Linked DNA regions of Homo sapiens. The protein of the gene in region 1 interacts with the protein of each later gene in a pairwise test. Each region holds a gene or a part of one and is shown in the gene's direction. Other genes may lie near its edges. The genes, in order: EFEMP1, DDIAS and MSRB3.

Evidence for each region.
Region 2: the proteins of EFEMP1 (region 1) and DDIAS interact in a two-hybrid assay, tested with the Homo sapiens proteins (one study listed by BioGRID).
Region 3: the proteins of EFEMP1 (region 1) and MSRB3 interact in binary tests that used the Homo sapiens proteins (3 or more experiments, as listed by UniProt).

The regions. Positions count from the first base shown.
Region 1 is NC_000002.12:55,870,643-55,879,176, reverse strand, and holds part of EFEMP1 (EGF-containing fibulin-like extracellular matrix protein 1 precursor), read left to right. Parts: intron 1-1,311; coding exon 1,312-1,431; intron 1,432-1,491; exon of another isoform or gene 1,492-1,560; intron 1,561-2,434; coding exon 2,435-2,554; intron 2,555-4,111; coding exon 4,112-4,231; intron 4,232-5,208; exon of another isoform or gene 5,209-5,294; intron 5,295-8,053; coding exon 8,054-8,177; intron 8,178-8,261; coding exon 8,262-8,457; intron 8,458-8,534. UniProt on the Homo sapiens protein: Binds EGFR, the EGF receptor, inducing EGFR autophosphorylation and the activation of downstream signaling pathways. May play a role in cell adhesion and migration. May function as a negative regulator of chondrocyte differentiation.
Region 2 is NC_000011.10:82,904,096-82,912,629, forward strand, and holds part of DDIAS (DNA damage-induced apoptosis suppressor protein), read left to right. Parts: intron 1-8,534. UniProt on the Homo sapiens protein: May be an anti-apoptotic protein involved in DNA repair or cell survival.
Region 3 is NC_000012.12:65,281,019-65,289,552, forward strand, and holds part of MSRB3 (methionine-R-sulfoxide reductase B3 isoform 2 precursor), read left to right. Parts: intron 1-8,534. UniProt on the Homo sapiens protein: Catalyzes the reduction of free and protein-bound methionine sulfoxide to methionine. Isoform 2 is essential for hearing.

The DNA.
Region 1 (8,534 bases):
TGTCATGCACTATAGTGAGGGAACACACAAGAAGCAAATAAACACATAACACAATGTCGAGTACTGTTAAGGACTACAAAGAAGTCTAAAGCAAGGTAAGGGAATAGATAGGGCAGAAGAACCTATTTGATATTGGTGGGAAAGGTGGCCACCCTGAGGAGGTGACATTTGAATGGACACCTGAACCAAAGTAAGGGGAAAAGCCATGTGAATATCTTCTTACTATTTATTTCAGTATTCAAGTTAAATCAAATATATCTTGCAGCTTATTAGCTCCCATTTATGTTTACTTGCTTTGTGCCAGTAACTTTGCCTACATTATGTCTTGTAACCCTCCCAATAATTCTACTCACAGAAGAGGAAATGCAAGCTCGAGAAGTTAAGACCAAGCTAGTAATTGCCAGAACAAAGATTCAGACTCAGGTTATCCTGAGGCCACTTGAGCACACTACTTAATTTTAGTTATTAAAGTACCAAAAGAGCCCAGCATAAAGGTTTGTTTTGTTTTGTTTTGTTTTACCACAAGGCAGTGTCACTATATAGCATTACATTGTATATGCATAATGGTTGTTTTAAATTACACATGCCATGTTGAAGTTGTCACAAAGTGTAGAATCATGAATTAATGAAATTTTATTATGCTTCTAAGATGTTAGTCCTACTTAGCAAGTTCTTAGTTGAGCATTTTATAGTTGAAAATATTTATATGAGAAGGACACAGGCTGGAACACTTCATCAAAGTGTCAAAAGAGCACTCTCAAGAGGTAACTTATTTAGCATCCAATTCTTCCACAGTGTTCTTTTATTTGATACACAAAAACGTCCTAAGATACACATGGCAAGCCTTGCTATCCACATCTTATAGAAGAAAAACCAAGATACTGAAGGCGTAAGTGACTTAGCCAAGGTCACCAGTTGAGCACAGCCCACAACTCTTTCTTCTTTGTTTTGTGCTGCACCATGCACTTCAGTAGTTCTTTTTTACTTCTGTAATTATATATAAGCTTTTAGCTCCCCAAACTGACATCTTATATATATATGCAATAGTCTCAATTATTTTGTTTTCTTTAAATCTCAATCCACCCACCAAGTTTATTTACCACTGAATGGCATGAACATTGAGTCTTTGTTCTTAACTTCTTAACTCAGAATACAAAGTATATTTAAAATACATATACCCTAATTTTAACAAAATAGGAAATTATTACTTTTAAAAAGAGATTTTCTCTACATAGGTTTTCTAGATAATGCTTTTCAGAGAATGCTAATTCAATAATTTGGTTCTCTTTGTGTGTGTGCCTGATAACCTAGACATAGATGAATGTACCATCCCTCCATATTGCCACCAAAGATGCGTGAATACACCAGGCTCATTTTATTGCCAGTGCAGTCCTGGGTTTCAATTGGCAGCAAACAACTATACCTGCGTAGGTAAGCCTTTTGAGAACTTGCTGATTTCTGTCTTCACAAAAGGAAACCCCATGCCATGTTGCAGTATTTCCAGTTTTCTATGTTCTTGAGTAAATAGTTTCCATCGACTTCCCTTCAGCAATCATAAAGCTTAAAAGATAATAACCAATCTGTGTCTTAAAACACATCAAGATGTGAACAGAAAACTTTTTAACTTTGGTTTTAGTTCTCCTCTGTGGATAGATCAACAAATTTAAAACTACAAATCAATTGATATACATACACCAGTCAATCAGCAGTGTGTGATATAATGCTGAAAGTGCCAAAGGGGTTACTACAAGTTCAAGTATATAAACTTTCCACTGAAAGTGCATCTGATTTTTACATGCCTCTTCTCCCCTTTCAGAATGCAATGTCACGGCACACAATTAAAAGATTGGCATGACATGGAAAAAATCTAGTGTAGGAAAAATGCCTTTTCACAATATTTTCAGTGCTTTAGAGCATTGCAAAACTCCGTATGGGTCTCAAAGGCTTATGTTATAATTGTAATGGAATTTAACAGAACCCATTTAAAAAGTAATAAATAGCACAGATAAATCTTCAGTACAGCATGCTGAGAGACCATATCAGTATAAGTGTCTTATATCAATTATTTATAGAATTGGCATTTTGTATCTGAACAACAAAAGAAAATCGATACCGGAGTGTATATTTATTAGAAGCATTAAATTCCTTTGGAAAGATTCATCAAACATCAAACTAACTGTCATTCCTAGAAAAAATATTTCGGTATTTCCAAAAGAAGTATATGACAGACGTTTGTAGTTGTTCCAACAAATATGAAACCTAAATGGATGTTCTCCAGTGAGCTTCTGCAGGGCAAATAATTCAGCTAGGGAATTACTCACTTGTCAGCAGATGACGTAGGTACAAAAGAGTAAGGATATGTTTAAAGTCTATATATATATGTGTGTGTATATATATACATATACATATATATATATATAAAACTTTTTTTCAGATATAAATGAATGTGATGCCAGCAATCAATGTGCTCAGCAGTGCTACAACATTCTTGGTTCATTCATCTGTCAGTGCAATCAAGGATATGAGCTAAGCAGTGACAGGCTCAACTGTGAAGGTAAAACTCTTCCCAGATAGTATGGAATAAAGTCCAATTCCTGTGACTGCTGTTGTTTTATCTGATTATGTACCCATTTATGAAAACAAACGCTTACCCATGGGAATTCTGTTCTAAAATCCAGTTAATGTAGTTCAGTTGTTACATTGCCTTTTTAGTGTGTTACCAAGAAAAAGGAAAAGAAATAAAAATAACTGAAATATTAGGTGCAGGCTGGCTCTAATAATTAGAAAGGGTGCTCTAGCATGTTGCGTCTCAGTGTGTTATCCAGTGACCAGGTATGTCAGCACCTCCTGGGAGCTTATGAGAAATGCAGAATCTCAGGCTGCAACCCAGACCTCCTGAGTCTGAATCTACATTCAACAAAAACTGCAGGTGACTGGTGTGCACATTTAAGTTTCAGAATAGCCAAGTGCATGTCAAAACATTAAAATAAAAATCAGGAGATCTGGTTTCTGGTTCTATTCCTGCTACTGTGTGACTTGGGCACATTTCTTGAGTTGCCTGGGTTTCACTTTCCACATGAACAAGAGGAGGGCCATTTAACTAGATTCATGACCTTCAGGGTCCATTGCATGTGCACATTTCGTTATATAATTCAAAAGGCATTAGACATCCTGAGGGGGATGCCACAGACACTTGATGTCCCTGACCTCCTCACGGTTCACTCAGCTTTACACAAAGCTCAAACCCCACCGAGAGAGGCCTCACATCATGCCATTACACTCAAAACTGAAAGAGGCTACCTCAGGACAGCTGCCTCTGCCCTTCTGAGTAAACTGTAGGGACATCACTATTCAGAAATGCAAAGCATTCTTCCCCTGAAAGTCAGATCCTGCCAAGCTGTCATTCTGGAAGCTTGCACAGGTTAGGGGACTTGGCATTCAAAGCTCAAATGAACTTGGCTTCAAAGTCACCCAATTTCTGAGAAGACAAACATGAACTCTACATCCTGGATGGGTCTGCAGAGTCCAAAATGAAGGCCGTCAACCACAAGCCAATTCATTCAGTAGTGTAGTTAGGTCCAGGATTAGCCAAATTGTCAGCAATGATTCAGTAAAAGTCATGATAAGAAAAACTTTTTGTGCTATGAAGTCATAGAGGGAAATAAGCTGATATTGTTAGAATTTGCCTTTTAGCTGCTTATAAAGTTTTGTATTTCTATTTCAGAATTTGCAATATTTTTACTCTCTTTAGCTCACCTCAAAAGTGTATTACTTCCTCTGGACTGTTGAGCAGAACAAAAAAAATATATATGTGTGTGTGTGTGTGTGTGTGTGTGTGTGTATATATGAAACCCAGGCAACTTAAGAAATGTGCCCAAGTCACACAGTAGCAGGAATAGGACAAGAAGCCAGATCTCTTTATATATATATAGGTAGATATAATTTTTCCTCCTTAAAATATAAATAATTTTAATTATATATAATTATTTTAATATAGATATTTTAAATCTTATAATTTATATATATATATAATTTATATATATATATATATCCAAAGTAGTGGTGCACAAACTTTTCAACTCTGTGTCCTTTCTCTTGTCTAATTCAACAGACATTGATGAATGCAGAACCTCAAGCTACCTGTGTCAATATCAATGTGTCAATGAACCTGGGAAATTCTCATGTATGTGCCCCCAGGGATACCAAGTGGTGAGAAGTAGAACATGTCAAGGTAAGTTTATTTTTTTTTTCATATGTTAGGTATTTAGTTTTAGCCAGGAAGAGACAAGAGGAAGTTATAGGATTCTCCTATAGACTTTCATTTTTCCCACTTTCAATATACAATTTAAGCTCTTTTTTCCCCTGTTCATCATAAAATATATACATCTCATAAAGAGGTGATTCTATGCTAATGCCGACATTTTTCGTCCTTAAAAGATAAATAATTTTAATAAAATATTGATATGTATTCTATGTAACCTACATCATCTCTTTGAGATACATCTTCAAATCATCCACTGGAAAAGATTCAGTTATTAAAATGTTTCACCTGTGAGTTTGAGTTTAGAGCATAAGCTCAATATGTGAGTTAAACATACCTCCATCCAGTCTTAGCCCTCTAAAACACAAGGATTATAAATTGCGTAAGAATGTAGGTGCTGAGAAAAGTCAGCCTAATATGTTGTAAAATATAGTTGAATATTTTAGAGAAAACTACTAGCCCCAAAATAGCTAATGACCTTGGGTCCAGTTTCAAAATAAACATTCAGATGATCTTCACACCTATACGTAAGTGGAAGAGGCAGCTCCCCACAATGGTATGATTTCAGAGTTTCTCAGGAAGATCTAAAAAAAAAAAGGACCCTACCTCCAATGTTGCATGTAGTTGAAAATTTTCTTAACAGGGAAAGGACTGTCAGATAAAACCAAAAACGTAGAAAATCCTGGAAAAGCTAGTACAAACACTTAAATTTACACAAAGCAACAAAAGAATGAAAAAATGACCAAACTTGACAGAAAACCTGTTTGAATCCCAGCTCCACTGTATTCAGTCTGCACAATCTTGAACAAATTATCAAACTACTCTGAGCCTCAGCTTCCTCATTTGGAAAAGGGAGTTGTGGGAATTTAGTGGAATAACATACATAAAAATAATTTGTAAACTATAAAGCTTGTACAGGTCAAGGTGTTTTTATGAAATTTACTTACCAATGTAAGTGACCAGTAGTACGTCTTCTGTAGAGAGTCCTTTTTAATCAGAGTTGGAGTGAAGGCACACAAGGACAATAAAGATCCTGTTAAGAAAAGAAAGATCAAGGAAAGGAGACACTGGGGATTCTCAGTCTATATCATGATTTTACAGGAAAATATTAACTTAGAGGAAATCCATTACCTGGGATTTTATAATAGGCACACAATTTTTCGACTAGACTCCAACCACTGAGTATGAGCATAATCAGAATGTAGTTCATTGCACAATGAACATCTTTATAACCCTTTCCAGGTTACTAGAGACTTTATAAATGTTAATTATGGGAAAACATTGCATTCCAATGATTTTACTTACTGAACCCTAATTGAGACTTTCAACATGCATATTACATGCAAGAAAATGTTAGCTAGTGGAATGTCTTAACAAATTTCTCTGGAGTCCTTCAAACAAATATCTATGTGTTTCTGATCAAAAATTGATTTGATGCTCAGCAAAAGACAGAAGCAGATTAATGCACGGTGGGATCCGACCTGCCTAGCCTATCTATGTGGAAACATTTATATCTATTGTAATTAAAGGTGGAAAATGCACCAAAATTGTAAGTGGGGGATTCCTAAATGTTATATATTGAAGATATGCAGCTTCAGAATGTTTGGTTAAGCCAAAACATTTTTTGTGAAAAAGACTTAGCATTCTTCTAAAGTATAAAGCAATTGCTTTCTCCTACGGAAATCGTTCCTTCTGAGCCTTGTCCACAGGAATAAAATGAAATTGAAAGTTTTGGATTCTTAACTTTCTCTAAAAGACTTATTTTGTGGATGAAATAACTGTTCTCATTTCACAGGCCTATACAAATGAAAACTGTGTGTGTGTGTGTGTGTGTGTGTGTGTGTGTGTGGAGAGAGAGACAGAGAGACAAAAGAATACACATACACATAGACACACACTCATCAAATATTTTGAGAGTATTAATTTCTGAAAAATCTTCCAGAATGATTAAGGTGATGATTATGCTAGGCTCTACATTAATGGAAGTAATAAATGAAATTATAAGGTTGTCTTTTGCTTCTGTTGGACTCCATATAACAAATAAGTATTAGTTTTCCCTGTACCTAAACAGCATCTTTATTCTTCAAAAAAGTGGAAAATACTGAAAGGATAAGTCAATTGTGATTTCATTTGAAGAATCTAAGTTTTCTTTCTTCAGCCATAGCCAGCCCAAGAAGACACTTTTTGTAACTGTCTCTTGGAGACTACCTAGCTTTCCCAGTCTGTTCTTGAGTTCCAGATAACTTTAGCCAGTTTGGAAGCTAAAATACTTTTTTTTCCTCCAAAGTCAAGGCATGAATTATTTAGAGTATATGAACTTGAATGAGCCACTAAACCCTTATTTGTTTTTCATCCATATCAAGTGGAAATATCTTTCTCACCTACCTCCACACAGTTTGTGTGAAGAGCAACTTAGTTCAATTTAATATTTCTTAAAAGCCAGATGCTCTATTGCATTAATGCTAGGTGATGAAAGGATTAAAAGATGGGTACAATAACCCTTGCCCTCAAGGAGTTTACAAGCTAATAGAAGGGTTAAGCTAGACATGCAGATTGCAATAATGCAAAGCAGAAAGCAATAAAGGCCCTTAAAAAAGAACACCGGGTATGAGAATTCAAAAGAGATCATATCCCAGCACCTAGCCCATGCTTGGCTTACAGCAAGGATTCAGTAAATTACTTATGGAATGAGTAAATTCATGAATAAAAATATCTCATTGTGGAGAAGGAATGATTCAGAAAAAGTTTACATTGAATAAAATATAAATCACTATTCAAATGTAAAGGGAGACAGACATAGAGATGTAGATATTAATTTTATTTTTATTGTTGTTGTTGTTGTTGTTATAAATGTAATGGCTCTCTAGTAAAACTGTTCTCTCAGATGTCATCTGGAGGCTTCTGATTCCCAAATTTAAAGTCAATCTTTGTCCAGCCTGAGGTAAACACAACCCTTCTTCCCAGGATTCTCTCTCCCTCTGACTTCTTTGGCATTGCCTTTTCCTGGGTTGTCTCCCTGCACTGACAGCCTCTTCCTTAACTTCCTCTTTTTCCTTACAGTCCTAAAATTGCTATGCTCTATGAGGTGGAACACTTCATAGTTTCACTTCCTGTGCTGTGCTTCCTCTGGACAGTATAATCCACTCCCAGCATGCTTCAGCTTACTGAAACCAGATTTCTAGCCTTTACCTTTCTCCCAAGTTCCTGAAAGAGATGATAAGCTGCCCTCCATAGTTTATGCTTCCTGATTTCTCAGCTTGGAAAGCCTTCCCTGCCCCAGCCATGAAAACTCCATCTAACCACCACCCTTCAAGGCCACGTTGAGATGCCTCTTCCTTCCTTCAGCCTTCCCTAATCCCCCTGGCAAAATTACCCAACTCTGCTCCACATGCCCCAGTATACTTATCTATCTCTTACTTAATTCCATTTTACTTTCTAAGTAATCATATACACATTCCCTCAATTATAATGTCCCTGATGACAAGAACTGGTGTTTAACTTTTATATAGGCAGAGTCAGTGGTTAACATTGGGGTTTGAATTCAACAGATGAACAATAGGTGCTTGATAAAATATCATGAAATGACACATATTAATCTGCCTAGAATGTCTCAGCTCTGTCTGTCCTGAATTCAATACAATGAACACCCAGTCTTGTGTCTAAAAGCAGGTTGAACACAGTCCAGATGCTCTCACACCTCCTTCCTTGCAAACAGAATCTGCCAGTTATATGATTTAATTAGATCAGTTCATTAGTTTAGTTAGTAAACTCTTTGACCCTACATCTCTACAGATATAAATGAGTGTGAGACCACAAATGAATGCCGGGAGGATGAAATGTGTTGGAATTATCATGGCGGCTTCCGTTGTTATCCACGAAATCCTTGTCAAGATCCCTACATTCTAACACCAGAGAAGTAAGAAAAATCAGAACTTTTGAAAGTGAGGATTTTCTGGTCTTACCAAGCCAAACTGCTGAATACTTTTGTTTGTCTCTGCAGCCGATGTGTTTGCCCAGTCTCAAATGCCATGTGCCGAGAACTGCCCCAGTCAATAGTCTACAAATACATGAGCATCCGATCTGATAGGTCTGTGCCATCAGACATCTTCCAGATACAGGCCACAACTATTTATGCCAACACCATCAATACTTTTCGGATTAAATCTGGAAATGAAAATGGAGAGTTCTACCTACGAGTAAGTATCCTGAAGGCAGCCTTAACTATTGAGAAAGATGGGAGTTTGTTGTTGTTGTTGTTGTTGTTGTTGTTGTG
Region 2 (8,534 bases), on another chromosome or scaffold:
ATAATGTTGCAAAAGCACTTTGCAAACTGTAAAGCAGTCAAATGAACTCAAACTGGATTATGAACTTTAAGATAGGATTCACATCTTATACTTTTATGTTCTCTTCAGCCCCATCCCCAGATGCCAGTTTACACTAAATACTTAATTGAACTTTTTCTCTAGGATCTAACATAGAATAAGAATTAGTTTAGATTTTCTAATCTAACCCAGTTTTTCTAGATCTTCTAGTCTAGCCGGAAGAAGAAAAAAAGATGTGTTGGTATGTGCATGTATGGGCACGGTTTTTCATAAATGATTAAGTTGCCTTCTGAGAACTTGATTATGAGGTAGTTAAGCTGAAAGATCACCAAATAATGGATTAGAGTAAAGAATTGCAAAATCATCCAAATGAGACTAAGATGCTGTCAGGCCTTGGGGATTTAACTATAACCATGTTTATCACAAGTGTTACACACCATGAGATAGTCTCAATGACTAGGCTACTGGTTTTCAAGTGTGGGCAATTTGGCCATTACCTGGGAACTTAAAATGCAGATTCTCAGGCCCTTATCCCAGACTTACTGAATCAAACTCTGGAGTTGGAGCCCAGCAATCTGTTTTATCAAGCCTTCTGGGTGATTTTGATATATGATAAAGTTTGAGAAATACTTGTCTAGTATGAAAATGGGATGCAGAGGTTGTAATCAATGAGTTTATATATCTGGTACCACTGACAAAACCATCTCTAGAATGAAAAATGCATCAGGCATTAGCTTGATTCCATTAAATAGTTGATTCACCAAACAGCTCTTCTTCAAGCAACTTTCTGTTTATAATTTTAGTATAATATGAGGTTATACCAAATATACAAATATGGGCTTCTGATATGTCCCTTCCCTGTGATGGTAATTTTTCGTGGTAAATTAGTAGAACATCTTTGGATTACAGTTCAGCTCCCCATATGGCTTGTCTAAAAGGAGAGAAAGCAAGTATTCCAGAATATCCCATGGTAAATTAGATATGTACTATAGTGTGTCCACATGGACCCCACATATTTTAATAAGCATAAGTCTATTGGAGCCTTCATTCCTGGACATTGACCTAGGTAATCCCTGGTATGTGCCCTTTGAAAAATCAAAGGCCAACTGAGGCCTTAATTAGTTCTGCCCCAACACTTACACTTTTGTCCCTCTTTCTACCCTCATTTCTACTTTTATGTGTGAGAGATTTAAAGAAAGCAAGATTTTCTTTGTATATTATTGCTAATGTCCCTATCCAGCATTTTTATAGTATTTATTGATTTTTTTCTAATTATAAAAGCAATACACTTAGATTGTATTTATTGATTTTTTCTAATTATAAAAGCAATACACTTAGAAAATATCTTAAATATATAAAGAAAATAAAAATCGCCCTTAACACTACCACCCTGAGAAAATACTTTTTAAAAATAAGATTATATACTTTCCTAACTATCCTCTTCTCTTTCCCCATTCCTCCCATCAAAAACTAAATTAGTCCCCCTGTTATATTTTCTCATGGCACTATGCATTTCCAAAATAGAATTTGCCAGAATTGCAGTTAAATTTTTTGTGTGATTATTTTAATGTCTGTCTCTTACACTAGACTGTAAGTCTAGTGACTAGGTAGGGACCTTGTCTGTTTGTCCATCAATCACACTATCCCCACCTAGCATTTAGCAGCTGCACAACTAATAACTGATGAATAAATAAATATGTTCGCATATTAAATTGGGATATGGTTTGCTGTGATGGAGCTGAAAGAAATGTAATACTATATCATCATCCTTCCCAATAAATGTGAAAAGAAAGATAAACTGCAAAAGATACCACATATGAAATTGTTCCCAAGTGTATCATCATATCTTCCTAATTTTAGTATTTACTTATTCCTGATGTTTCATTCAATTATTCATCAGACATGCATCCACTATACTGCAAGTCAAGCAGTAGAGAGAGACAGAGAAATAAAACAAAGTATAAAAACACCCCCAGAGCCTAGGTAAATAAATAAATAAATACAAAAATAAACTAGGTGGCAAGTATGAAGGAAATATTATGAAAACACCAAAGGAAATTAATTAACAGTAACTGTCTGAAACGATCTTATTCTATTATTGTCCAACAGACAATAAATGGGAAGCCTTTTTGCCATTTTCTGGGGTTCACCAGGTGAAATACAAATAGTAAAAATACTAATGATCCCTTTCATTACAGTTCTCAAATTTGCTGTTTTTATAGATTTTTAGACTTACTTATTTGATCCACTAGAGGGCAGTAAACCCTTAAATAAAGACAATGTAACCAACCTTCCTTTAAAAGTATAGTAATAAGTGCTGGCACAATTAATTTAGAAATGAACCCAAAATTTCCTGCTTATTTAAGTTTTTCATTTATTAGTGAGTTGTCTGCCCAATTAGCAATTTTTTTTAGGACAGACAGTATCTTATTTTCACTTAGCCCAGTGTACGAGTCATGTTACAAGTTTATTACATTTCCTAAAGTTTGAATAACAATTGTGTAAAGAACATGATTTGATGAATGCCCATATTGTTGTGGTACAGTATAAAATTCTGTTTTAGAGCCCTAAAGAAAATAGTCTCTGCTCACAATATGAACAGAAGTAAAAAAATTAGAAGTGAGGATAAGATGTAAGTAATGATTAAAATAAGTATGAAATAAGGTACTATATATGAAACTAGGCTGTGTACTTCGTATACAAATAGAAGATAATTTTATGATTTGGTAAAATTGTGTTTTATATTTAACGCTATGTGACAAAATTGTGGCTTGGGAAGAGGAAATGCAAATCATGAAGATTAATATCTGAAGTTCAGATTGACAATTTCTGAGCTTGGCACTGAAGATATAAACAGATAGTCCTTCTACGATCTTACTTTGAGTCCAGGAAAAACAAGCCATATTGAACAGATAAATTTAATATAATGTGGCATGTGATGAATTAAAGAGTAATTTAACTTCTGGGAAAACGTCCTAGAAAAGAAGACTTCTAAGAAGGATCTTAAAGAATAATAAGCATTACCAAGAGAATGAAAGCATTTTAGAGAGAAGAATGGAAAAAAGCAAAGGCATAGAAATGTGAAACATATTGTGGGGGTGGGGAAGCAAGGAACACAACTCAGATTGTTTCTCTTGGCATAAATTACTAGCACATAAAGAGCAAAAAGAAAGTTAAGAGAATAGGCATTAGGGAGAATAAAACCAAATAGACAATACACTACAATAGACAAAACAAATGGTAGGACTACAGAGGTACAATAGTATATGGTGTAGAAAAAAAGAAAAGCCATTCCCTTTGTTAATAAAGAAAGACTTTTTAGGGGAACTTCAAATGAAATAGGAAGAAAATTCTGGTTATCGTATGGCGTCTGCCTACTCTGTTGTAAAAATTTTCTTGAATTGCAAAATTCTGCTTATAGTTCTTCATTCATGCAATAAATTTTGTTTTGAGACTAGTCTTTGTTGCCCAGGCTGGAGTGCAGTGGCGCAATACCGCGCACTGCAGCCTCAATCTCCCAGACTCAAGTGACCTTCCCACCTCAGCCTCCTGAGTAGCTGGAACTACAAGCATGCACCACCATGCCCAGCTAATATTTTTTATTATTTGTAGAGATGAGTTCTTGCTGTGTTGCCCATGCTGGTCTCAAACTGGTGGGCTCAAGCAATCCTCCCACCTTGGCCTCCCAAAGTGCTGGGATTATAGGCCTGATCCACCACACCTGGCCCCATTCAATAAATATTTATTGTGAACTTACTGTGTACTGAGCACTGTTCTAAGCACTGGGGTTACAGTAGAGAACAGGGTGGACTAGGTCCCCGTCTTTATGAAACTTAGGCTAGTGATGGGTAGATGAACAAAAATAAGTAAGCAAAGACATACATAGGATGACTATCCAGCAGGGTTAGTACCATGAAGGATAAAACAGGTGATGCCATAGAAACTAAGAGGAAGGAGGATTCTACTTGAGCTAAAGTGGGGCTCTCTGAAGGGATAACATTAGAGTTACAGATTGAAGGACAATAAAGAACCGACTATTCCAAGACCTAAGGGAAGAATATCGTAGCCAAAGAGAATAGTAAGCACAAAAGCCTGAGAAGGGAAATCGTTTGGTGTGCTTGAGGAGCAGAAAGAAGGCCAGCATGGCTTGAAATACAGTGATTGAGGAGGAGAGTGGTACAAAGTGAGGTCAGGGATTGGCAAGATCTACATGACCCAGGGCTGCACAGACCATTGTGAGATATTGAGGCTTCATTCTAAATAGCAGGATTTTAAGCAGGTAAGAGACAGCATGTTCAGGAGTGAGCTTTATGCTCTTTTAGCTCCCCTAACTCACAGGTAGATGTACCTCCATACTAAACCCTACACTAAATTGGATTTTAGAATGTGGAGGACAATGCCTTTGTTGACATAACATCATTTGTTATGTTAACTAAAAGTTATAGGAGGCCTTTGTTTTGGACTAAGCTCCTGCACTAGGCCCCAGTGGACCAGACTAAAAATCAAAATAGAGTCATTTATACTTAAAGTTCCACCTCACCAAATCAAAACTACATTGTTATCTGACCTTCCTAGAACTCAGAAGAGAGAAATAACCAAATTTCCCACATGTGCCAGTTTCAATTGTCATAACAACGAACTTCGCTCTGCCTTTGATGCTTACAACAAAAAGTAGCCTTATGTTAACCAGTTATTCCTGTATTTTTCTGTTCCTCTGTTCCCACTTTAGGAGGAAAGTAACTTTGAAATGACCAAGCTGCTTTTTGTTCTTTGTTTCTACTTTCTTTAGCCCTTCTCTTTCTGTAAAACTGAACTTCTCTGCTCAGCCCCTTGGGTCACTTACTCTATTTTATGGAATAAAGTATTTCCCGATTCTAGAATTGTTACAGGAAAGTAGTCCCAATTCAGACCCCCAGAGAGGCTTCTTTGATCTCGCACAAGAAAGAATTCAGGGCAAGTCCATAAAGTGAGAGCAAGTTTATTAGGGAAGTAAAGGAATAAAAGACATAGAACAGCCCCGAGGGCTGCTGGCTGCCCATTTTTATGGTTATTTCTTGATGATGTGCTAAACAAGGGGTGGATTATTTGTGCCTCCCCCTTTTAGACCATATAGGGTAACTTCCTGACGTTGCCATGGCATTTGTAAACTGTCATGGCGCTGGTGGCAGTGTAGCAGTGAGGACAACCAGAGGTCACTCTCATCACCATCTTAGTTTTGGTGGGTTTTAGCAGGCTTCTTTACTGCAACCTGTTTTATCAGCGAGGCCTTTATAACCTGTATTTTGTGCCGACCTCATATCTTATCCTATGACTTAGAATGCCTTAACCGTCTGGGAATTCAGCCCAGTATGTCTCAGCTTCATTTTACCCAGCCTCTAGACAAGATGGAGTTGCTTTTTTATTCAAACACATCTGACAGAATCATAAATAAAGCCAATTAAGATCTTTCACAAAATTGTTGTAATTTTGTCTTTTGACAGTTGCAATGGCAAGGAATTTGAGGTTTTAGCACTTACAATGGCAATTTTCTTTGACCCTTCTTTCTGCCTTTCCTTTGTATCCTGTATTACCTACCCTACCATGTCCTTTGAGATTGCCATGTAGCCTAAGGTGACAACCAAATCTAGGAATACATAATCGGCTTTGGCAGAACCTTACTAATGTATATATAAGAGTCCCAACAAGGATAGCAAAAAATTAGGATTAGCGTTCTCTTTTCTGTGCTCCCTTCAGTAATACAGATTAGTGATTTATTTAAATTATTTATCTTTCATCTGTAAATTTCCATCTTATTACCTTGAGTGGCAAGATTTTATTTTTATAGAAATGTTATTTTGATTGACTATCAGAATTAGTATCACTTTAACATCTCCCTTCCATAGTCACCACATTTCTATGTTTGTCATCATCTTTAGAGTACTATACCGAAAAGATTTTATTATTTTAAAACCAGTGACCTCCACTTTGTCAGTTTGCTGATGCCAGTGTCAAAAACAGCATCACCCATTTCAGAATTGAAAGTTTTTGCCATGTGTTTAAAAATGAAAGTTTCTTAATACAGCTTTATCTCAAACAGTTACAAAGACCTTTGTTGTAAGGCATGTATTTTATGTTATATGTTTTATGTTATGCTAATCCATTTAAAAAATTAGTAAACAAACCAACCTTTTTTTTTTTTTTTTTTTGAGACAGAGTTTCACTCTGTGGCCCAGGCTGGAGTGCAGTGGCATGATCTCGGCTCACTGCAACCTCCGCCTCCCAGGTTCAAGCAATTCTGCCTCAGTATCCTGAGTAGCTGGGATTACAGGTGCACACCAGGCTAATTTTGTATATTTTTGATAGAGATGGGGTTTCACCATTTTGGTGAGACTGATCTCAAACTCTTGACCTCAGATGATGTGCCTACCTCGGCCTCCCAAAGTGCTGGGATTATAGGCGTGAGCTACCACACCCTGCCACAGATCAAGCTTTTAATTTTTTCTCTCTCTCTCTCTTTTTTTTTTTTTTTTTTTTTTTTTTTGAGAACAAGTCTCACTCTTTCACCCAGGCTGGAGTGCAGTGCCATGAATACAGCTCACTTCAGTCTTTACCTCCTGGGCTCAGGTGATCCTCCCACCTCAGCCTCCCAAGTAGCTGGGACCACAAGCTCATACTACCACGCCTGACTAATTTTTTTTGTTTTTTGGAGAGATGAGGTCTCACCGTGTTGCCCAGGCTGAATTTTTAAAAAGAAAGTATAAAGAGGAGAACATTGCTACAGGCATACCTTGGAGATATTGTGGGTTGTGTTTCTGACCACTGCAATAAAGCAAATATTGCAGTAAAGCAAGTCACACAAATTTTTTGGTTTCCCAGTGCATATATTAATAAAATGTTTACACTATACTGTAGTCTAAGTATGCAATAGCATTATGTCTAAAAAATACATCTTAATTAAAAAACACTTTATTATTAAAAAATGTTAATGATCATCTGAGCCTTCAATGAGTCATAATTTTTTGTGGTGGAGGGTCTTGCCTCAGTGTTGATGGTTGCTGACTGCTTGGGGTGGTGGTTGCTGAAGGTTGGGGTTGCAGTGGCAATTTCTTAAAATAAGACAACATTGAAGTTTGCTGCATTGATTATTCCTTTCACAAAAGATTTTTCTGTACCATGTAATGCTGTTTGATAGCGTTTTACTCACAGTAGAACTTCTTTCAGAATTGGAGTCAATCTTCTCAAACCCTGCCACTGCTTATCAACTAAGCTTATGGAATATTCTAAATTCTTTGTTGTAATTTCAACAATGTTCACAGCATCCTCACCAGGAGTAGATTCCGTATCAAGAAACTACTCTCTTTGTTTATCCATAAAAAGCAACTCGTCATAAGTTCATGCCTTATCATGAGATTGCAGCAATTGAGTCACATCTTCAGGCTCCACTTTTTAATTCTAGATCTCTTGCTATTCCACCACATCTGCAGTCACTTCCTCCACTGAAGGCTTGAACCCCTCAAAGTCATCCATGAGGACTGGAATCAGCTTCTTCCAAACTCCAATTAGTGTGGATATTTTGACTTCCTCCCATAAATCATGAATGTTCTTATTAGCTTCTAGCATGGTGAAACCTTTTCAGAAGATTTTCAACTTACTTTGCCCAGATCCATCAGAATAAGCATTATCTATGGCAGCTATGGCCTTAGGAAATGTGTTTCTGAAATAATAAGACTTGAAAGTCAAAGTGACTCATTGATCCATGAGTAGAGAATGGATGTGTTAACAGGTATGAAAACAATATCAATCTCCTTGTGCATCTCATCAGAGCTCTTGGGTGACCAGGTGCGTTGTCAATGAGCATTAATATGTTGAAAGGAATCTTTTTTTCTGAGCAGTAGGTCTCAACAGTGGGCTTAAAATATTCAGTAAATCATGCCATAAACAGATGTGCTGTCATCCAGGCTTTCTTCTTCCATTTCTAGAGCACAAGCAGAGTAGATTCAGCATAATCCTTAAGGGCCACAGGATTTTTGGAATGGCAAATGAGCACTGGTGTCAGTATCAAGACACCAGCTGCATTCACCCCTAACAAGAGAGTTAGCCTGTTCTTTGAAGCCTTGAAGCCAGGCACTGACTTCTCTAGCTATGAAAGTCCTAGATGTCATTTTCCTCCCATATAAGTCTGTTGTGTCTACATTTAAAATCTGTTGTTTAGTGTAGCCACCATCATCAACTAGTTAAGATCTACTTATCTTAACTAGATCTTTTGGATAACTTTCTGCAGCTTCTACATCAGCGCTTGCTGCTTTACCTTGCAGCAAGTTATGTTTTATGTTTTGGAGGTGGCTTCTTTTCCTAAACTTCAAGAACCAGCCTCTGCTAGCTTCAAGCATTTTTTTCTGCAGCTTCCTCAACTCTCTCAGCCTTCATAGAATTGAAGAGCATTAGGGTATTACTCTGGATTAGGCTTCGATTTAAGGGAATGTTGTGGCTCGTTTGATCTTCTATCCAGACCACTAAAATTTTCTCCATATCAACAA
Region 3 (8,534 bases), on another chromosome or scaffold:
GAGTTCGAGACCGGCCTGGTCAACATAGGGATACCCTGTCTCTACAAAAATTAAAAAAAAATTAGCTGGGCATAGTGGCTCACTCCTGTGGTCTCAGCTACTTGGGAAGCCAAAGTGGGAGGATTGCTTGGGCCAGGGAGATCGAGGCTGTGGTAAGCCGTGATCACACCACTGCATTTTTGGTTCTGTCATAATCTGGTCACAATCCCTCTAATTTATCTGCACCTGTATAATTAATTTATCATAGTTATGGATTTGGTTGATGAATTTGATTCCCATGTTTAGCTTCTCGGTAAAATTATTAAGTTGGACAGTTTCCATGTCTCTTCTAACTCCAAGATCCTATAATGTTGTTTTTGTTTATGTAACTCTTCAGAGCCACCTACTACATGTGGTTCAAACTTCTGATTGTCAGCCTGTGACTTGCTATACATGTCAAACTGGCCTACCTTAGCCAGATGTGATGGGTGTGGTCCAGTGTTGGAGAGTCCGGATCTGTCTCAGGATTGTGTTAATACCTGGAACATGCACAAAGATACATACATACCTGGACAGATTCCGTGTTAAGCTTCTATCACTTTTTCTTCCTCATCTAATAGCAGAAAGTGCTGATTATGTCATAGGGTAAATGCCTAACTGGTTTTTGGGGATAGTTAAGCCCAGGCCTTAAGACAGTTTGATATTCAGTTTTGTTATTTAGGTCTGGGTTAGGGATACCGCCAGAGAGCATCCAAACATTTCTGTGGTTGGGAAGGCTAGTTATCTGTGAGCATTCCAGATGAAATAGCCTATAATGGGTTATCACCTTTTGATCTTACCTCAGAGAAGATTGAATTGGATCTACCTATCTGATTTAGCAGAATTAAACTGGATTTGGATGGAAGGGTAATCAGCTATTTAATTTGCCAGTTGTTAGTTAGCATTTCTTCTTGCTGTATCTCAAGGATTTACTTTGAATATTCTGTATTTTCTCTTTCCTGCCCATGATGGGTTTTCCTTTTAAAATGCTCAGCACAGGCTGGGTGTGGTGGCTCACGCCTGTAATCCCAGCACTTTAGGAGGCCGAGGCAGGCAGATCACCTGAGGTCAGGAGTTTGAGACCAGCCTGGCCAACACGGTGAAACCCTGTCTCTATGAAAAATACAAAAATTAGCCGGGCATGGTGGTGGGCACCTGTAATCCCAACTACTCAGGAGGCTGAGGCAGGAGAATAACTTGAACCAGGGAAGCGGATGTTGCAGTGAGCCAAGATCATGCCACTGCACTCCAGCCTGGGCGACAAGAGCAAAACTCTGTCTCAAAAAAAAAAAAAAATTGCTCAGCACAGTCCCTCATCCATGTTCATATATTTGTCTGTATAGTATGCTGAAGTCATGTTTATGGCTTTAAGGGAAGTACAAAAAAGGAAAGTATAGAAAAGATCAAACAAACGCATCGAACAATTGACTTTATGAAAGATTTTGGTTATTGCCTCATTTAAGCTTCTATTGCAGTAACAGAAATGAACTAGTTTTAGCAAAAAGGAAGAAAGGAATTTGTTGGAAAACCATTGGAAGTCAAATGCAGGCAGACCTCATTTAGGGCCTGAGATAAGGGACTGGAAAAATCTAGAACATTCCCTGTCTCTAGTTTGCTTCACTGTTTTTTCTTTGCTGGTGTTTTTTTTTTTTTTTTTCTCTTCATGGTTAGATGTGGCTGCTCAGCAGCTCCTGAGTATTTATGTGTCCCTTCATAAGGAGGGACTATATTATTGAGCCTTGATCCTAAATTCCTGGGAGGTAGAACCTGATAGACACAGTTTAGGTCACATGGTTGACCTAGATTTTCCCTAAAGTCTCTTCTAATTCTAGAGTATCTGATGTACGTAGTACAGCCATGTAGATGGTTTGATTTTGCATTTTTCCATTTTATGTTATGAGGTTATAGTCCTTAAAATGAATTGTGAACATTTTCTCTGATAACAACTAATTCACTCTGCAAATAATCATCTGCATATTTTCAGGAATTCACTGAATAAAATGCTGACCTCCAGTGGCTCTTTAGGATAAGTTCATTAAAACTATAAGTGGTAGAGATATTTGAAACAGTAATAGCTTAGGGACTGAGAATTTATCAGTTGTTTTCCTATTTCTCACACATATCTAACATTTTCTGTCTCTACCTTTCCTTTAGGCTGTTCCTACTGCCTGGACCTCTTCTCTATCACAACAGGTTGAAGTCTTTAAGGCCTCTGTCAGATGGTAGTTTGTGACATTTTCTTCATACCACAGAATTTGTAATTTCCTTGTGCTTCTAAGGTGTTTTGGACCATGGTTGGAGTACAAGTTTTACTATATTGTCTTGTGTTGTAGTTAAGTCCATATATATTCAACTTCACTAAACTATAAATTCCATATGTCAGTGAATCACCTAGAATTTTTTTTTTTTTTTGAGATAGGATCTCACTCTGTCACCCAGACTGGAGTGCAGTGGCACACTCATGGCTCACTGCAGCCTCGAACTCCCTAGAATCAGGTGATTCTCCCACTCCAGCCTTCTGAGTAGCTGGGCCTACAGGCACCTGCCACCATGCCCAGCTAATTGTAGTATTTTTTTGTAGAGATGGGGTTTCACCATGTTGGCCAGGCTGGTCTTAAACTCCTGACCTCAAGTGATCTGCCAGCCTTGGCTTCCCAAAGTGCTAGGATTACAGGCATGAGCCACTGCACTCAGCTAGAAGAATTCTGATAGGCTCTGAGCATCCATTGTTCCAGGTATAACAATTCTGACTTTTTCAGATACTCTGATGCTTTTATGGTATCCTGCTTGCTGCTGTCTTCTTTTGAAATTGGAGTTCAATCACTCTGCTTTTCTTTCTTAATACTTGTCTGTTTCCTAGATTTTACATGCTTTTCCATGAACACTAATTTCCTGTATGAAGAGGGAATATACAAATGATAGGATGCTTTCCTGTAACTGAGATGGCAGGGGGAAGGAGAGGACAGCAACTCATACAGAAGGAAATCAGCTTTTGTTGAGCACCCAGAATTTACCAGATCAGATAGAGAGGACAGGTGTAGAAGAAAATGAGCATGTATAAAGTGGAATAGTGGGACAATAAAGTACAAATATGGAAAATTAAGTGGAAGGCTTTTAATGCTGTTAGGGAACTTGGATTGGGTTAGTAAGTTATGAGACTGACATTTTTGATCCTTGAAATGTCATAATCAGAGGTGAATTATAGGTTATATAATCCAATAGTTTAGATAATTAATTAAATTGGGAAATAAGTCATAGGACCAATAAAGAAGTGTTTTGAGAGTTTCTCTTAAGGAATGAAGACCTAACGAGAATAGCGGCACCGCAGTAGAAGTGTTGCTAAAGTACATTGGACAGAAATAAGCAATTGGATATTGGGAAAGAAAGGGATGAATAAAAGGTGACATGAGATGTTAAGCCTGGGTGATGGAGAGAATGTGATCTCAGCAGGTTTGTGGGTGGAGGTAAAAATAAGTTTTGTTCTAGATCTCTTGCTTTTGAGGTGCTGGTAGGATATTCCTGTGGAGATGTGTAGTAGAATCCGAAGTGTGAAACTGGAACTTGGAGGGAGAGATCAAGGCTGGAAATAAAACATGTATGAGTAAGGAGAGTTAAAAATAAAGAGAAAAAGAGAGCATTTGTTAGCTGGAGTAAAAGGAAGGGTACAGGAAAAGCATCATAGAGAAGAGAGAATTTGATCTGACTTTAAAAGATGCCGAGTCGGTATATGGCATTCTGTTCACGAGCTTTCCTTGTTGAGGGGACATCACATTTACTAACTTGAGAGATAATACATGGGAAGTGTTGGACAAAGGATACTGCATCCAGAATGACCTTTCTAAACTACAAAATCATTTCCCCTCTTTCCTGCTTAACCCTCCCTCAGTGGCTTCTTATCTTTCTTCAGATAAAGGACTGACTCCTAAATGTCTTCATCATCACCAATTTGAACACACATTGTGTCTCACACTCCTCCTCGTTCCTCACTCTTCTTCCCCAAGACTGGACAGAATGTGAAGAAGATATGATTTCCACCAGATGGAGTACTCTTTATACTTTTTTGGGGTCCTTTATGGTTACTTTTTGTGGCCATGGTCAGGTTCTTATCCATAAAATAATTATTGATAACTTCCTAATGTAAAATGAAAAATAATGATAAATCACATACTTCCCTCATTTTTACAGAATTCCTTGCTTGCCTTATCTCTTCAAGTGTTGACTGCAAGGTTCCTGTACACTTACTTGAGTTGGCCACTCCGGTCACTATACCCTGATCTCTGACACTTGGCCGTGGTAGCCTGGAGCAGCATTGTTACTGGGCATTGCTGTGATTGGGTTACCCAGCTGTGCTGATGTGGAAACCTCAGGGCTATTTATTGATACTTGGTTTCCTAAAGGAAAGTTGAGGGAATGTATTTTATGAGAGGGCTTTATTTACACGATTAAAGAGGTTTATAAAATGTGGAGATGAATATAGGTGAAACAGAGAAAGAATGCTGGTATAGGAGGTGTTTTCGGCTGGGTTTGGTGGCTCATACCCGTAATCCCAGCACTTTGGGAGGCTGAGGCGGGTGGATCACTTGAGTCCAGCCTGGGCGGCGTAGTGAGACCCATCTCTACAAAAACTACAAAAATTAGCTGGGCATTGTGTTGCATGCTTGTAGTCCTGGCTACTCAGGAGGCTGAGGTGAGAGGATTGCTTGAGCCCAGGAAGCAGAGGTTGCAGTGAGCCAAGATCGTGCCACTGCACTCCAGACTGGGCAATAGAGTGAGACCCTATCTCAGAAAACAAACAAAAATCCCCAAAAAACCAGGAAGTGTTTTCTTAGGGTCTAGTTCCCAGGCGAATGGTATATCCTGATTCTAGGTTTATAAAAATAGTATATTATTCATAACATTTGTCTAAAGTGACACATTTACATACAGTATATAGTATTGAGTAATTTCCAACTCTTTAAAAATAATGGAGACCCTTTCATGTAGTAGTAACTATGTTTTTAGTATCTGTTGACTGAGAAAATACGTAACAGCAAAAGCTACTATAAAACTTTGAAATAAGTTCTTGTAAATGTAAAAAAAATTCTCATATATTTGGAAAGTATACATGTGGAAATTATGACTTATAGAGTCTATGGACACTTGATTTCTTGCTTTATGGATACTCTCAGGAAGTTCTGGTCTCAACTTTGAGTATCTCATTGTCCTCTTACTTTAGAATGTGGGGTATGGGGGAAAACTTCTATTTGAAAATTTGAGCCATAGCGGAAATTTTGGAATGACAGGGAAACACCTTCTCAGAATCCTCTTACAATAAAATTTATATATGTTATGCCAGACAATGTACTTTATACTAAGACTGGACTTTTAAATAGTCTCATGGATTAGAAGTCAGATACAATAAATAAATACTTTTTAAAAATTATATTTTTAGGTATATGAGCATTGTTGTTGGGACTACAGTGCTATTTTAAAGTGAAATTTAGTTGATTTGCATGTGAGTATACACCTACAGGTCTCTGTTATAGCCGTGACATGTCTTCTGTTACTATAAATTACATAACAAATCCTTATGGTTTCTTGGGTCACTTATTTTATTTAAAGACAAAAACATCTTTCAGTACATATGTAAGACTTAAGGCATTATTGAAAATAAGCCTGTGCTACATGGTAGAATCTATTAAAAAAAAAAAAACACTCAGGCAAGGCACAGTAGTTCATGCCTGTAATCCCACCACTTTGGGAGGCAAGGAAGGAGGATCACTTGAGGCCAGGAGGTCGAGACCAGCCTGAGCAACATAGGAAGACCTAGCCTCTACTAAAAATTAAAAAAAGAAATTAGCAAGGTGTGCTGGCATGCACCTGTGGTCCCACCTCCTCTGGAGGCTGAGGTGGGAGAATCGCTTGAGCCCAGGAGTTCGAGGCTACAGTGAGCTATGATTGCACCACTGTACTCCATTCTGGGTGACAGAGCGAGACCCTTTCTCAAAAAAAAAAAAAAAAAAAAAAAAAGCAAAACCAAAAACCGAAAAACAACTCAGGACAGTCTTTGTATAAATTAGATAGCCCTAAATTTTATGTTTGTTCTTTCATTTCTCTTTTTTTTTTTTTTTTGGCTGCCGCCCAGGCTGGAGTGCCATGGCAGGATCATAGCACACTGCACACTGTAGCCTTGACCTCCTGGGCTCAAGTGATCCTCCCACCTCAGCCTCCTGAGTAGCTAGGACTACAGGCTTGTGTCATCATGCATGGCTAATTTTTTAAAAAAAATTTATGTAGAGATAGGGTCTCCCTATGTTTCCCAGGTAGGTCTTGAACTCCTGGACTTAAGCAGTCCTCCCACCTTGGCCTCTCAAAGTGCTGGGATTATAGGCATGAGCCTCCACGCCCAGTACATTTCTTTTGTTTTTATTGTGTTTGATTGTCAGAGAACCTGAGTTTGGTTGGGGTTGAGAGAGAACTATAGGGCCTATTATAGGTGAATACTTATTTTATCTTAGATTAGTGGTGTGTAGCTAAGGAAAGGTAAGGTCATATCTTCCTGTAACAGTCCAGATTAGATAGGGAAATGGGTGAAAAGCCACAAGTTGTTTTGCAACTCTGGTCTCACAGTAATTGAGAGCAAAAAGGAAAAAGTGCACTGTAGTCCCCCTTGTTTCTGATTTTGTGGGGTGTGAATATGCCTTCTAGTCAGATCGCCTTAGGGGGCCAGGAAGAGGAGGGTTGAGGGCAGAGCATGTTTACCTGCGTGCAGAGCCACTTGAAAAATTATAGGCTCATTTACATATTTGCATCCTTGTGTATGTGTTTGTGTTGCAGGGGAGTCAGTGTAGTATTATGAAAAGAACATTTGACAGTGAATTGGAAAACTAGGTTTTTCTAGTCTTGTTTTTGCCTGAGTCGTTTAAGCTTCTTGTGCCTCAGTTTTCATATCTGCAAAATGAATGAATTGGACTGGGTAATACCTGGTGTTGCTTTAAGATTCTGTAGGCTGGGCATGGTGGCTCTTGCCTGTAATCTCAGCACTTTGGGAGGCTGAGTCGGGCGGATCACGAGGTCAAGAGATTGAGACCATCCTGACCAGCATGGTGAAACCCCATCTCTACTAAAAATACCAAAATTAGCTGGGCGTGGTGGTGTGTGCCTGTAGTCCCAGCTACTCAGGAGGCTGAGGCAGGAGAATCACTTGAACCCGGGAGGCGGAGGTTCCAGTGAGCCAAGATCATGCCACAGCACTCCAGCCTGGCAAGAGAGCGAGACCCCGTCCCCCCCGCAAAAAAAAAAAAAAAAGATTCTGTAATTTAAGGATTATTTTAAAGTCTCCAACTTTCTGTAATTTTTAATGGAAAAATATAGTTAATACAGTATGCAAAATTATGTCTTTTTAAAAAATATTTTGTTCAAGTTGACTATCTTGTGCGATTCACTATAAGTGTTACACTGCATCTAAGATCTTATGTTTGAACTTCGTAGCCTAGTGTGCCCAGTAATTTGAGCTACTGGCAAAGTTACATAACCCTTTTAAAGATTTAGTATTTAAAGAATAGATTACAATGTATCAGAAGCATCATATTAAATATCCCATCTGAAGTAATGGTATTAAGGACTAGAAATTATGTCTTTCTAAATGTACAGCTGGGAATTGCTTATTTATGCTTGACAATAGATTTCAGATGAGAAAAGTCCTCATTTAGCAGGATATATTACCATTGGAATTTGCCTCTGATTACCCTATTAAATATATTTAACTCTTAAGGTTGGTTAATCTGGTCTTATTTTTAAAAAAAACTTCACTGTGAGTTTTAAAGAAAAAAACTTGGCTAATTTGATGATTTTAAAAAGTATCTTCTCTTGCCTGTAAAATTCACTTATAAGATTTGTCCTTTTTATGAGAGAATATTTTATACACAAAAAAGAATATATAGTGTCTATATAAGGTATAAAGAATATTTTAAAAAAATCTGGGTACCCTCATCCAGCTTCAGAAATGAAATGTGAAAGATGCCTGTGAGACACACATTTCCTGTACTCAGAAGTACCCATAGTCCTATATTTTGTGATTATCATTGAACACAAATAACTGATAAACCTTGCTTTCTTTATAGTTTTATCATAGATGTATGTCTCTATATCATATTGTTCAGTTTTGCATATGTTAGAACATTATATAAATGTTATTGGCCGGGCGTGGTGGCTCACGCCTGTATTCCCAGCACTTTGGGAGGCTGAGGTGGGCGGATCACCTGAGGTCAGGAGTTCGAGGCTAGCCTGGCTAACAAGGCAAAACCCTGTCTCTACTAAAAATACAAAAGTTAGCCGGCATGGTGGCACGTGCCTGTAGTCCCAGCTACTCAGGTGGCTGAGGCAGGAGAATTGCTTGAACCGGGAGGCAGAGGTTGCAGTGAGCCAAGATTGTGCCATTGCACTCCAGCCTGGGTGACAGAGTGAGATTCTATCTAAAAATAAATAAATAAATAAAAGTTATCATCTGCTGTGTATCCTCTGTGACCTGCATTTTT